Regions from separate parts of the Homo sapiens genome. Here region 1 is linked to region 2. Evidence: fine-mapped expression QTL. A gene starts in region 2. The other region holds a variant in brackets. All regions are shown on one strand. Distances are between the middles of the regions. Region 1 has its middle 6.1 kb from the start of ANKDD1A. Region 2 holds the start of PIF1 (PIF1 5'-to-3' DNA helicase).

Region 1 (5,333 bases), 80 kb after region 2:
GGGCCCTTGGGTTGTTTCCAATTGTTTGCTATAGTTACGGAACAGATCGCAGTAGACATCCTTGCATCTTTATGTAATTACTGCAATTATTTCTATGGTGTAGATTCTTAGAAATGGAGTTGTTGGCATGAAAGGTATGTACATTTAAAAAATTCTGATAGCCATTGTCAAATTGTTTCAGTATCTGGTCCCATCTTTCCCTCCACTGCTCTTTGTTTTCATAACATTGCTGTCTGTTTTTATTGTTGTTGTTGTTTTAAGATAAACTTTAGTATCATTTTGCCAAGTCTTATCAGGCTGTAGTTTTGAATGAGTACAGGGATGAATTAGCTACCACATCTGCCTTGACAAGTTCAGTTGGCCAGGCGCTGTGACTCACGTCTGTAACCCCAACACTTTGGGAGGCTGAGGTGAGAGGATTGTTTGAGCCCAGGAGTTCAAGACCAGCCTGGGCAACATAGGGAAACCTCATTTCTGCAAAAAAAAAAAAAAAAAAAAAAAAAAAAAAATTAGCTATGCGTGTTGGCACATGCCTGTGGTCCCAGCTACCTGGGAGCCTGAGGTGGGAGGATCGCTTGAGCCCTGGAGATAAGGCTGTGATAAGCCATGATCTTGACACTGTATTGCATTCCAGCCTGGGTGACACAGTGAGACCTTGTCTCAAAAATAAATAAATTTAAAAAAAGTTCATAGTATGGCAGGGATTGGGGTTGGGAGGGTGCTTTAGTGGGAGCTGGAGCAGAAGGTGACAGCTGCAAAACAGTTACTTGCATCTAGGCCAGGGATACCACGGAAGGCTTGACCATGGGTTCTGGGAACCCTCAGGAAAGGGGCATTTTGAGTTTGGAGCAATCTGGGAGCCCTCTACAGAGGAGGTTTCATGCCTAGTCTTTGTAGTGGTTACAGAGCACTTTCTAGAACAACAACTGATTGAATTCTCACAATAGCCCTTTGCATATAGGTAGTGTTATTATCTCCACCTTCCAGATGAGAAAACAAGTCTGGAAGATGAAGGTCTTGCCTGACTCCAGCCTGCCAGCTCTTAGGTGCCTTTTCCTTTTCTCTTTTCCTCGCTTCCCAAGCATCTCTCCCTGACCCCCAACCTCCTGTCCCCCAACTTGAGCCTCACTGGCTGGGCTGGCAGAGCCCTGGGCAGAGGGCATGCTCAATGACACTGCACATGGCTGTGCTACCTTCTTAGAGAGGACACACATCCGGTGCATTGGGCTTTCACAACAGGCTGCACCCTGTCCCTGCTCTGGGACCCAGATCACAGAACTGCCTCACCCCTCAACCCAACAACACCAGGTCATCTTATCCTTTCTCCAGGCAAACACCTCTCTCCCTTCTGCCTGTTAACCTAAAAAAATCACGGGAACAGAAAACCAAATACCGCCTGTTCTCACTTATAAGTGGAAGCTAAATGATGATAACTTATGGACACAAAGAAGGGAACAACAGACACTGGGGCCTACTAGAGGGTGGAGGATGGGAGGAGGGAGAGAATCAGGAAATATCACTACCAGGTACTTGGCTTAGTACCTGGGTGATGAAATAATCTGTACAACAAACCCCCATGACACAAGTTTACCTATGTAACAAACCTGCACATATAGCCCTGAACCTAAAACAAAAGTTAAAAAAAAAAAAAAAAAAAAAAAAAAGAAGGCCGGGCGCGGTGGCTCACGCCTGTAATCCCAGCACTTTTGGAGGCCGAGGCGGGCGGATCACGAGGTCAGGAGATCGAGACCATCCTGGCTAACATGGTGAAACTCCGTCTCTACTGAAAATACAAAAAGAAATTAGCCGGGCATGGTGGCGGGCGCCTGTAGTCCCAGCTACTCGGGAGCTTGAGGCAAGGGAATGGCGTGAACCCGGGAGGCGGAGCTTGCAGTGAGCCGAGATCGCGCCACTGCACTCCAGCCTGGGCGACAGAGTGAGACTCCGTCTAAAAAAAAAAAAAAAAAAAAAAAAAGACCTTTAGAATTTCATTTGGGTTAAATATTGCCCCCTTCCTGCAGCTTTTTAAGATGCGCATTCCTCTAACGGGAATCCATAGTAATTCCCTACTTTCTTTGCGAAAGTTATTGGATCTTTTCCCTCATTAGAAAGGCCCGAGTATGTCTGGGAATTAAACTGCCACTCAACCCCACATTTACTTACATCTTTACCACCGCGTCTATTCCTCTCTCACCCCGCCCCCATGGCCCAAGTCTTTAGCCTGGCATTCACGTACCCTCACTGGCAATCTTGGGGAAAGCCTCAGAAAATGGTACAGCAGAAAGCCCAGCGTGGAGGAGCCAGTTGGGAGACTCAGCATGTGGGCACCCTGCTTCTCTGCGCAGAGCCTCCTCTGTCATAGGTAGATCCAGCCCATCTCAGGTTACACTACAGTCTGTAACCCCTAGCCTCTCCCTCCTCGCGCCCCTCTGGCCTCCATCACTGTCGTGCCGGTCGTGGGGACAGATGGGAGGGAATTACGGTATTTACAGCTGCTCTTCGCCGGCTCTTGCTCCCCCGCGTGTCGACAACCGAAACTGCAGCGAGGCCCAGAGGCCTCTGCCCACTCCCCTCGGAGTTCCAGGAGGACGCTAAGCGCGAGAAGCCAGGCTCAGGGAAACTGAACGCCCATACGCTCCTAGTCCCTCTCACCTGGATCCTCTGCGTCAGGTTACGTGCTTGCGCTATTTTTCCTTTTGTTTCTTTAAATTTTTTTTGTAGAGACAGTGAGCGTGTGT[G/T]TGGGGGGGTGGAAGGGTAGGTCTCACCATTTTGCCCAGGCCGGTCTCGAACTCCTGGGCTCAAGCCTTAGCCACCTGCCTTAGCCTCCCAAAGTGCTGGGACTACAGGTGTGAGCCACCACGCCCAGCCTGTTTGCGCTGTTTTCTGAGGCTTTCCGCCAAATTGCTTTCTTTCCTGGCAAGAAAGTCACGCCCTAGAATTGGGGTGTCCCAGTGGACTGGCCGGGTGGTTGGATTGAAGGATGTCCTCCAACCTCACCTTCAGCTGTGGCCTGGCTGGGGACCCAGCACGTGGTTCAATGCCATGGGAATCACCTGTTTCTCCTTTGGAGCGAGTCACACCTGGAGGCCATTCTCAACTCTCCACAGCTTGTTGTATGTCCCTGAGTGAAGTATTAACCTCTCTGAATCTCAGGTGCCTCCTCCGTACAGTGGAGCTTCCATATTCTAGCATTTGCCTCACAGAGTTGTCAATATGATTACATGGGATAGTATAGGTTGCAGGTGGAGAGCTGGAGGATAATCACCGCCACCACACTAGGGCACTCATTGTGTGCCTGGGCCTAGGCATTTTGAAATAGCCCTATTAAAAAAGGATCATCCACAGATAAATTGAAGGTCAGAGAGATTTAGTGATTGCATGGGGTCACACAGCCGAGCTAGGACTGGACTCAGAAAGACATGGATACACAAGTGCTGGGAGATGTGGGTGGAGTCTGAGGTCTGTGAGTTTATAGCAGGTGTCCCCAACCCCCGGGCAGGACCAGTATGGGTTTGTGGCCTGTTAGCAATGGGGCTGCACAGCAGGAGGTGAGCAGCAGGCATTACTGTCTGAGCTCTGCCTCTTGTCAGATCAGCAGAGGCATTAGATTCTCATAGGAACATGAACCCTATTGTCCCCACATGCGATAGGTTGCTGCACTCCTTATGAGAATCTAATGCCTGATGATCTGAGGTGGAACAGTCTCATCCTGAAACCATTCCAATGGCCCCACCCCAACCCATGGAAAAATTGTCTTCCAGAAAACCAGTCCATGGTGGTAAAAAGATTGGAAACCACTGGTTTAGAGGGTACCTAGGGACCTGAAAAATAAACTGGCCCTGCCTCCCTTTGGTTAATGCTTTCTTCCTCTAATGGATTATTCATCACCTCTCAATCCAATGCTTGAGGGGCCAGGGACCTAAAAGACCATCCAGGCCTATTTCCTTATGGAGAGAGGGAAAGGACTTGTCCAGTTCCACAGCTGGGCAGTGCAGATCTGGATTGGAGCTCAGGTCTCTTAGTCCTGTGCTCCTGCTGCTCCTTCCCCCACTGGGTGAGCAGTTCTGCAGGGGGCTGCCACTCCTACCCACAATCAAACTGCTCACTTATTTGGAGCACCTGTTCAGGAGCTGCCCACTGGGTACCCCTGACCCCACTTGGCTGGGAGCTTCTGCCACTCCCTCCCTCCTCTCAAGCAGCTGATTGCTCTAAGCAGAGAGGAAACCAGTGCCATTCTGGCTCCCAAATGCTGGTACAAGACCAGCAAATATTTACCACTCTTGTGTGTGTGTGTGTGTGTGTGTATTTTTTTCTTTTGTTAGAAAAGGGCTAGCGCAATATATAACAAGTGATTCATGGTGGCGTCTTCTGGTAGATTGATTGTATTTTGTCCCTTCTTTTTTTTTTTTTTTGTTTTTTTGAGACGGAGTCTCACTCTGTCGCCCAGGCTGGAATGCAGTGGCCTGATCTCAGCTCACTGCAAGCTCCACCTTCCGGGTTCACACCATTCTCCTGCCTCAGCCTCCTGAGTAGCTGGGACTACAGGCACCCGTCACCACGCCCGGCTAATTTTATATATATATATTTTTTTAGTAGAGATGGGTTTTCACCATGTTAGCCAGGATGGTCTTGATCTCCTGACCTCGTGATCCTCCCACCTCGGCCTCCCAAAGTGCTGGGATTACAGACGTGAGCCACCGCTCCCAGCCCCTTCTTTGTATTTTAAAATTTCTTTAGTAATGAACAAACATTAATAAGACAAGAAATAAAAAGCTGTTTTAAAATTTCTCTTAAGCAAAAGGCCAACAATCATTTAAAAAATGAGTGGGATAAGAACAGATTGTTCTCAGGAAAAAAAAGAAAAGAAAACGGCTCTTAAACATAGAAACAGATAACCAACTTTTCTTGTAATGATAGAAATGCAAACTAAGATTATAATGAATTACTATTTCTTACTTATCAGATTGGGAAAAATCCAAGTTTTACAGAATGTTCTCCTTGGAAACAGGCACCCTCATACATTGGTAATGGAAATGCAAAATATTTCTGGACCTTATGGAGGAGAATTTGGCAATAGCTAGCAAAGTTATATGTGCATTTACCCTTTGACCAAGCAATCCCATTTATAAGAATAGATCCCATAGATGCACTGGTAAAAATACCAACTGATGCATGCATAAGGTTGGTCATTGTAACTCTATTGTAATAACAAAAGTCTGGAAACAGGGCCAATGTCCATCAACAGGGAGTGGTTGAATAAGCCACCCAATGGAGGACTCTGAGGCTGTACAAAGGATGCAGGAAGATCTCAACAGACTACTGCGGAGAGATCT
Region 2 (5,319 bases):
GATTTACTCCATCTCAGGGATTACACTATAACAACCACAGGCACAATTCCCACACCCCTGTCATACTGAGATGTCAGATGGGTATCAAATACCCACACCGGCTTCCCCTCAAACTTGGGTCTCTAGGTCTCTGCCATCTTAAAGAATGGCACATCTACTCCTAAAGGTGTCCCTTCTTTCCCGTCCTCACTGTGCTAGGCTCGGCCCCAGCCTGGGGCTCCACAGGCCGCTTCACCAGCGTAGTGTCCGGAACCCGGGTGGCCGCCCTGAGCCGCCGCTCCTCGGGCTGCACAGGGCTGATGGTGACGAAGTCGCGGGGCCGCGGGCCCAGCAGCTGCGCTCGGGCGGAGGCCGGCCCGGGACCCGGGGCCGCAGCCAGCTTGAGGCGCAATGTGCGCAGGAAGCGGCGCAGGCGGTCTGGGGGGCAGTCCGAGAGCAGCAGCTGCACTGCGCCGGCCCCGGGGGTGTCGTGGGCGGGGAGCCGCAGGGTGCTGCGCCCGGCCTCGGCGAAACGCGTGAAGAGGCGCGCGGCGCGCAGAGGAAAGCAGCGCGGCCGCCCCGCGGGCCCTGGCGCTTGCAGCCGCAGCATCAACTCGCGGCGCTCGTTGCGACCCAGGCTCAGCTCCGCGGTGCGCAGGGCCTGGCGCCTTCGCGGCTGCCCGCCCGGGCTCAGCTCCTCCACAGCCACGCGGCACCGCAGCTCCGAGTCCTCATATTCCCCTGCCGCCGCCTCTATGCCCGAGAGCATCGTCACCGCCTCTGCTGGTCTGCGAAGACACCGGAGCACAGGGGTCATGAGGATTCATGAGACGTAATGGGTGCTATAGGGGACGTAATGGGTGCTATAAAGGACGTGACAGGGAGCAGGGTCAAGGCTACACAAGATCACGAGGACTGTCACTGGTAACACAAAGAGGTCACAAAGACGGAGAAAGGGCTTTGGGCTAACCGAAAATCCACCCTTAGAATATGCCCTGGGCCGGGCGCAGTGGCTCGCGCTTTAATCCCAGCACTTTGGGAGGCTAAAGTGGGCGGATCACCTGAAGTTAGGAGTTCTGAGACCAGCCTGGCCAACATGGTGAAACCTCGTCTCTACTAAAAATACAAAAATTAGCCGGGCGTGGTGGCGGGCGCTTGTAATTCCAGCACTTTGGGAGGCTGAAGAAGGAAGATCGCTTGAGCCCAGGAACTCGAGACCATCCTGGGCAACATAGCGACACCCTCTAATTAAAAAAAAAATACATACATATAAATACATACATATGCATACATTATATATATGTGTGTGTGTGTGTGTATATATATGTATATATATATATACACACACGCACCCTGCTACACAATTTCCATTTCTATATATCCAATTTCTATATATATATACACACAATATATATACAATTTCTATATATATACACACACACACACACACACATATACACACACACCGTGCTACACAACAATTTCCAGAGCGGCGGATGGGCACCGAGGATTAGGGAGCCTCAGGTGTCCTGCAAGGACCTCACTAGAACAGGGGTCCCTGCGCAGAAAGAATCCTCCTTCCCCGAGACCCAGGGCGAGCACATGAATCCTCAGAGTACTCTCCCCAGGAAGCAGGAGAATCGCCCGTGGGGAGATGCAAAGAGGGCTGCCGTGTAATAAGCGACTTCTGCCTTGTAGGTACATTCACTGGCTTATATGCAGCGGGCAGGTCTCACTCTTCCCCGTGTACAGACGTGGAAACAGGCTAAGAGAGGGAAACTCACTTGCCCTTCATAAGCCACAGCGGCTAGTAGTCAAAGTCAGTGTGATTCCCATGCCCTCGCGCTTCCCACCACCAAGGTGGGGACGAGGTGGAAAATATTCGGCTAGGGAAATCGCGGGGGACCCTGGGACCCTAGAAGCCGTGCTCCCTCAGGCTGACCCATTTGTTTGCACCCTCCCGCCGGAAACCCCTAGATAAATCAGGCTCTTTGCTCCCCACCTCTGGGTTCGGGCAGACACTCACTTGTGCCGACACTCAGATGAACAAGCAGATCGTAGCCGGCCTGTGGCTAAGCTCCGAAACTAGAAATTTTTCAAATGCTAGAGGCAGAAAATCACCCAATCACCGACTGGATCTTTAAATTCTCCAGCCACTCAGAGGTAGGGGCGTAACAATGGGCGTGTCTTTCTTTGCGTCTCTACTCCAGGAGCTTGGGCTGTACCAATTGCCTGCTAGAGGAAGGAGGTTTATGGTGGTGGCTGAGCATACCAAATCCAGTGGACGGCTGGGCGTGGTGGGAGGAGGCCGCCGCTGCGGCAGCCACCCGGCGGCGCGTGGTGTCGGGTCTGAAAACCCTACGCGACTCCGAAGATTTATTTTCAGAACCATCCTTCCAGCACACTCCCTCTCCCCTCTAGCCCGCACACAGAGGCTGGGCTTAGCCTTGGGGAAGATCTGCCTTTGGACTCTCACACCCCTGTTTACACTCACAGTACCATTGTCCAGTTCTGGGCAGACCACCCCAAGGCCTGCCCAATCCCTCCCCCGCCCCCAACTCTACATCCTTCTCTGCCTTTGTAAGGGACTTTACGCTTTGGCTCTCTCACCCACCTGAGGCCCATGAGTGAGAAACTCTGAGACCTGTGCCACGTGCCAGAGGGTACAGCGGAAGCGAGTAGAGTCTCTGTCTTCAGGGAAATTGTATCCCTCTTCTTGCACAGGATGCTGAAAGAATTTACTTTTAATCATCTTTATTATCTCATTGAAGCTTGGAATTACATAGCTGGAAAGGATCTTACAGGTGAGTCTGGCTACCTCATTTTACAGATAATGATAACTACCATGGATTAAATTGCCCTTTCCTTTCCTTTTTCCTTCTTAGGGCTCACTCTGTCGCCCAGGCTGTAGTGGAGTGCAGTGGCACAATCTCTGCTCACTGCAACCTCTGCCGTGGCGCGATCGTGGCTCACTGCAACCTCCGCCTCCTGGGCTCTGGTGATCCTCCCGCCTCAGCCCCCCAGGTAGCTGGAACTACAGATGCACACCCAGCTAATTTATATATATATATATATATATATATATATATATATATATATACACACACACACACATATATACACACACATATATATACACACACATATATATATACACACACATATATATATATACACACACATATATATATATAATTTTTTTTTCGTATAGACGGGATGTCACCATGTTTCCCAGGCTTGTCTCGAACTCCGGAGGTCAAACGATCCACCCACCGTGGCCTCCCGAAGTCCTAGGATTACAGGCATGAGCCCGGACCTTATTTTTCAAATGAGAAAAAAGCAAGGCTTCCAGAGATTTTACTGAAGGTCACATAGCTGATATGGAGAGCAAAACCAAACATTGAACCCAGATTACCTGCTCGCTTAATCACTCCATGGGGCTTAGCTACTACACCACACTGCTCCCAGTCTGTTAGCGGTAGAGGGTGATGACTGAAAGTTGTCCAGGTTCTTGGCGTTTTGAACAAAGAATTGGACAAAATGCCCATCAAAGCAAAGAAAGAATGAAGCAACAAAAGAACAAAAGCAGGAATTTTTTGAAAACGAAAGTACGGCTAGGCGCGGTGGCTCACGCCTGTAATCCCAGCACTTTGGGAGGCCGAGGTGGGGGGATCACTTGAGGTCAGCAGTTCCAGACCACCCTGACCAACATGGTGAAACCCTGTCTCTACTAAAAATACAAAAATTGCCGGGTGTCGTCGTGGACATCTGTAATCCCAGCTGCTTGGGAGGCTGAGGCATGAGAATCACTTGAATCCAGGAGGCAGAAGATACAGTGAGCCTGGATCGTGCCGCTGCACTCCAGCCTGAGCGACAGAACGAGAACTTGTCTCAAAACAAACAACAACAACAAAAAACAAAAACGAAAGTACACTCCACAGTGTGGGAGGGGACCCGAGATACAGAATTTTCTTGGGTTCAAATACCCCCTAGAAGTTTCCCATTGGGAACTTTACGCTTACTTCATGTAACTGAAGTGGTAGCGATAATCAGTCTGATTGGTTGCAGACAGCAACCATTCAGCCACCATTCAGAGGCTGGAGTGAAGTTACAAAGTTGCAAACGAAGACTGGACCCACACTCCTATGATTTGTTGCAGACAGCCAATCTCCCATCTGCCAATCTCCCATCTGCCATGCGGGAAACGTCAAAGGGAGTAGCCTTTGGTCCTTTTGTTCTTGTCCTTACTTAGGAGTGGAAAGTTAGAGTTTTCCTTTTTTTTTTTTTTTTTTTTTTTTTTTTTTGGGAGACAGCGTCTGGCTCTGTGCTCTGTTGCCCAGGCCGGAGTGCAGTGGCAGGATCTCGGCTCACTGCAACTTCTGCCTCCTGGGTTCAAGCGATTCTTCTGCCTCAGCTTCCCAAGTAGCTGGGACTACAGGTGCGTGCCACCATGCCCATTTAATTTTTGTATATTTGGTAGAGATGGGGTTTCACCATATTGGCCAGGCTGGTCTCGAACTCCTGACTTCGTGATCCGCCTACCTCGGCCTCCCAAAGTGCTGAGATTACAGGCGTGAGCCACCATGCCCGGCCAGGGTTTTCTTTTTTCTTCTTCTTCTTCTTCTTATTTTTTTGAGGTGGAGTCTCTATTTGTTGCCAGGCTGGAGTGCAGAGGCGCTATCTTGGCTCACTGCAACCTCTGCCTCCCCCATTCAAGCGATTCTCCTGCCTTAGCCTCCCAAGTAGCTAGGACTACAGGTGCATGCCACCATGCCCAGCTAATTTTTGTATATTTAGTAGAGACGGGGTTTCACCATGTTGGCCTGGATGGTCTCAATCTCTTGACATTGTGATCTGCCCGCCTCGGCCTCCCAAAGTGATGGGATTACAGGTGTGAGCCACTGTGCCCAGCCGGGTTTTCCTTTTAATTTAATTCTAGGAAGTCGGCGTGAAACAGCCTTAGGTTCCCTGCCTCCAGACCCTGTTCTTCTGCCTCAAGGTGACTGGCCTAGCTTCATGAAAGGTATAACCTGGACTGGAATCTCAGCTAGTAACAGCCACTGCAATGCCTTTCCAGTGGATGCTACCCTAAGCAGGTTTCCATAATGTCTCAAGCCTCTGTTTTCTCAAAATGGGAGAAAGATAAAAATAGTCTAAAATTGATTGGTGATAGTTGCACAACCCCGTGACTATACTGAAAACCATTGAATCGAATGCTTTGAATGCTTAAATTGTATGGTATGTGAATTATATCTCCATAAACCTGTTAGAAATCTTTTTTTTTTTTTTGAGACAGGTTGTCACTCTGCCACCCAGGCTGGAGTACAGTGGCACAATCAT

What was found. PIP is the estimated chance that this variant, and not a neighbour inherited with it, causes the effect. A credible set is the group of variants that fine-mapping cannot tell apart.
Region 1: its variant is the best candidate, but not a certain one, in a credible set for the expression of PIF1 in blood mononuclear cells (TOPMed, PIP 0.84).

Annotation. Positions count from the first base shown.
Region 1 is chr15:64,903,181-64,908,513 of GRCh38, forward strand. No RefSeq gene overlaps it. Among named protein-coding and RNA genes, the nearest start is that of ANKDD1A, 6.1 kb to the right of the region's middle. The variant G/T (reference allele first, on the strand shown) is at 2,739.
Region 2 is chr15:64,823,588-64,828,906 of GRCh38, forward strand. PIF1 (PIF1 5'-to-3' DNA helicase) reads right to left here and starts at 2,060. Exons shown (of 13, transcript NM_001286496.2): 1 at 1,982-2,060; 2 at 191-767. The coding sequence starts at 748. RefSeq lists a silencer at 145-634 and enhancers at 336-1,003, 2,193-2,322.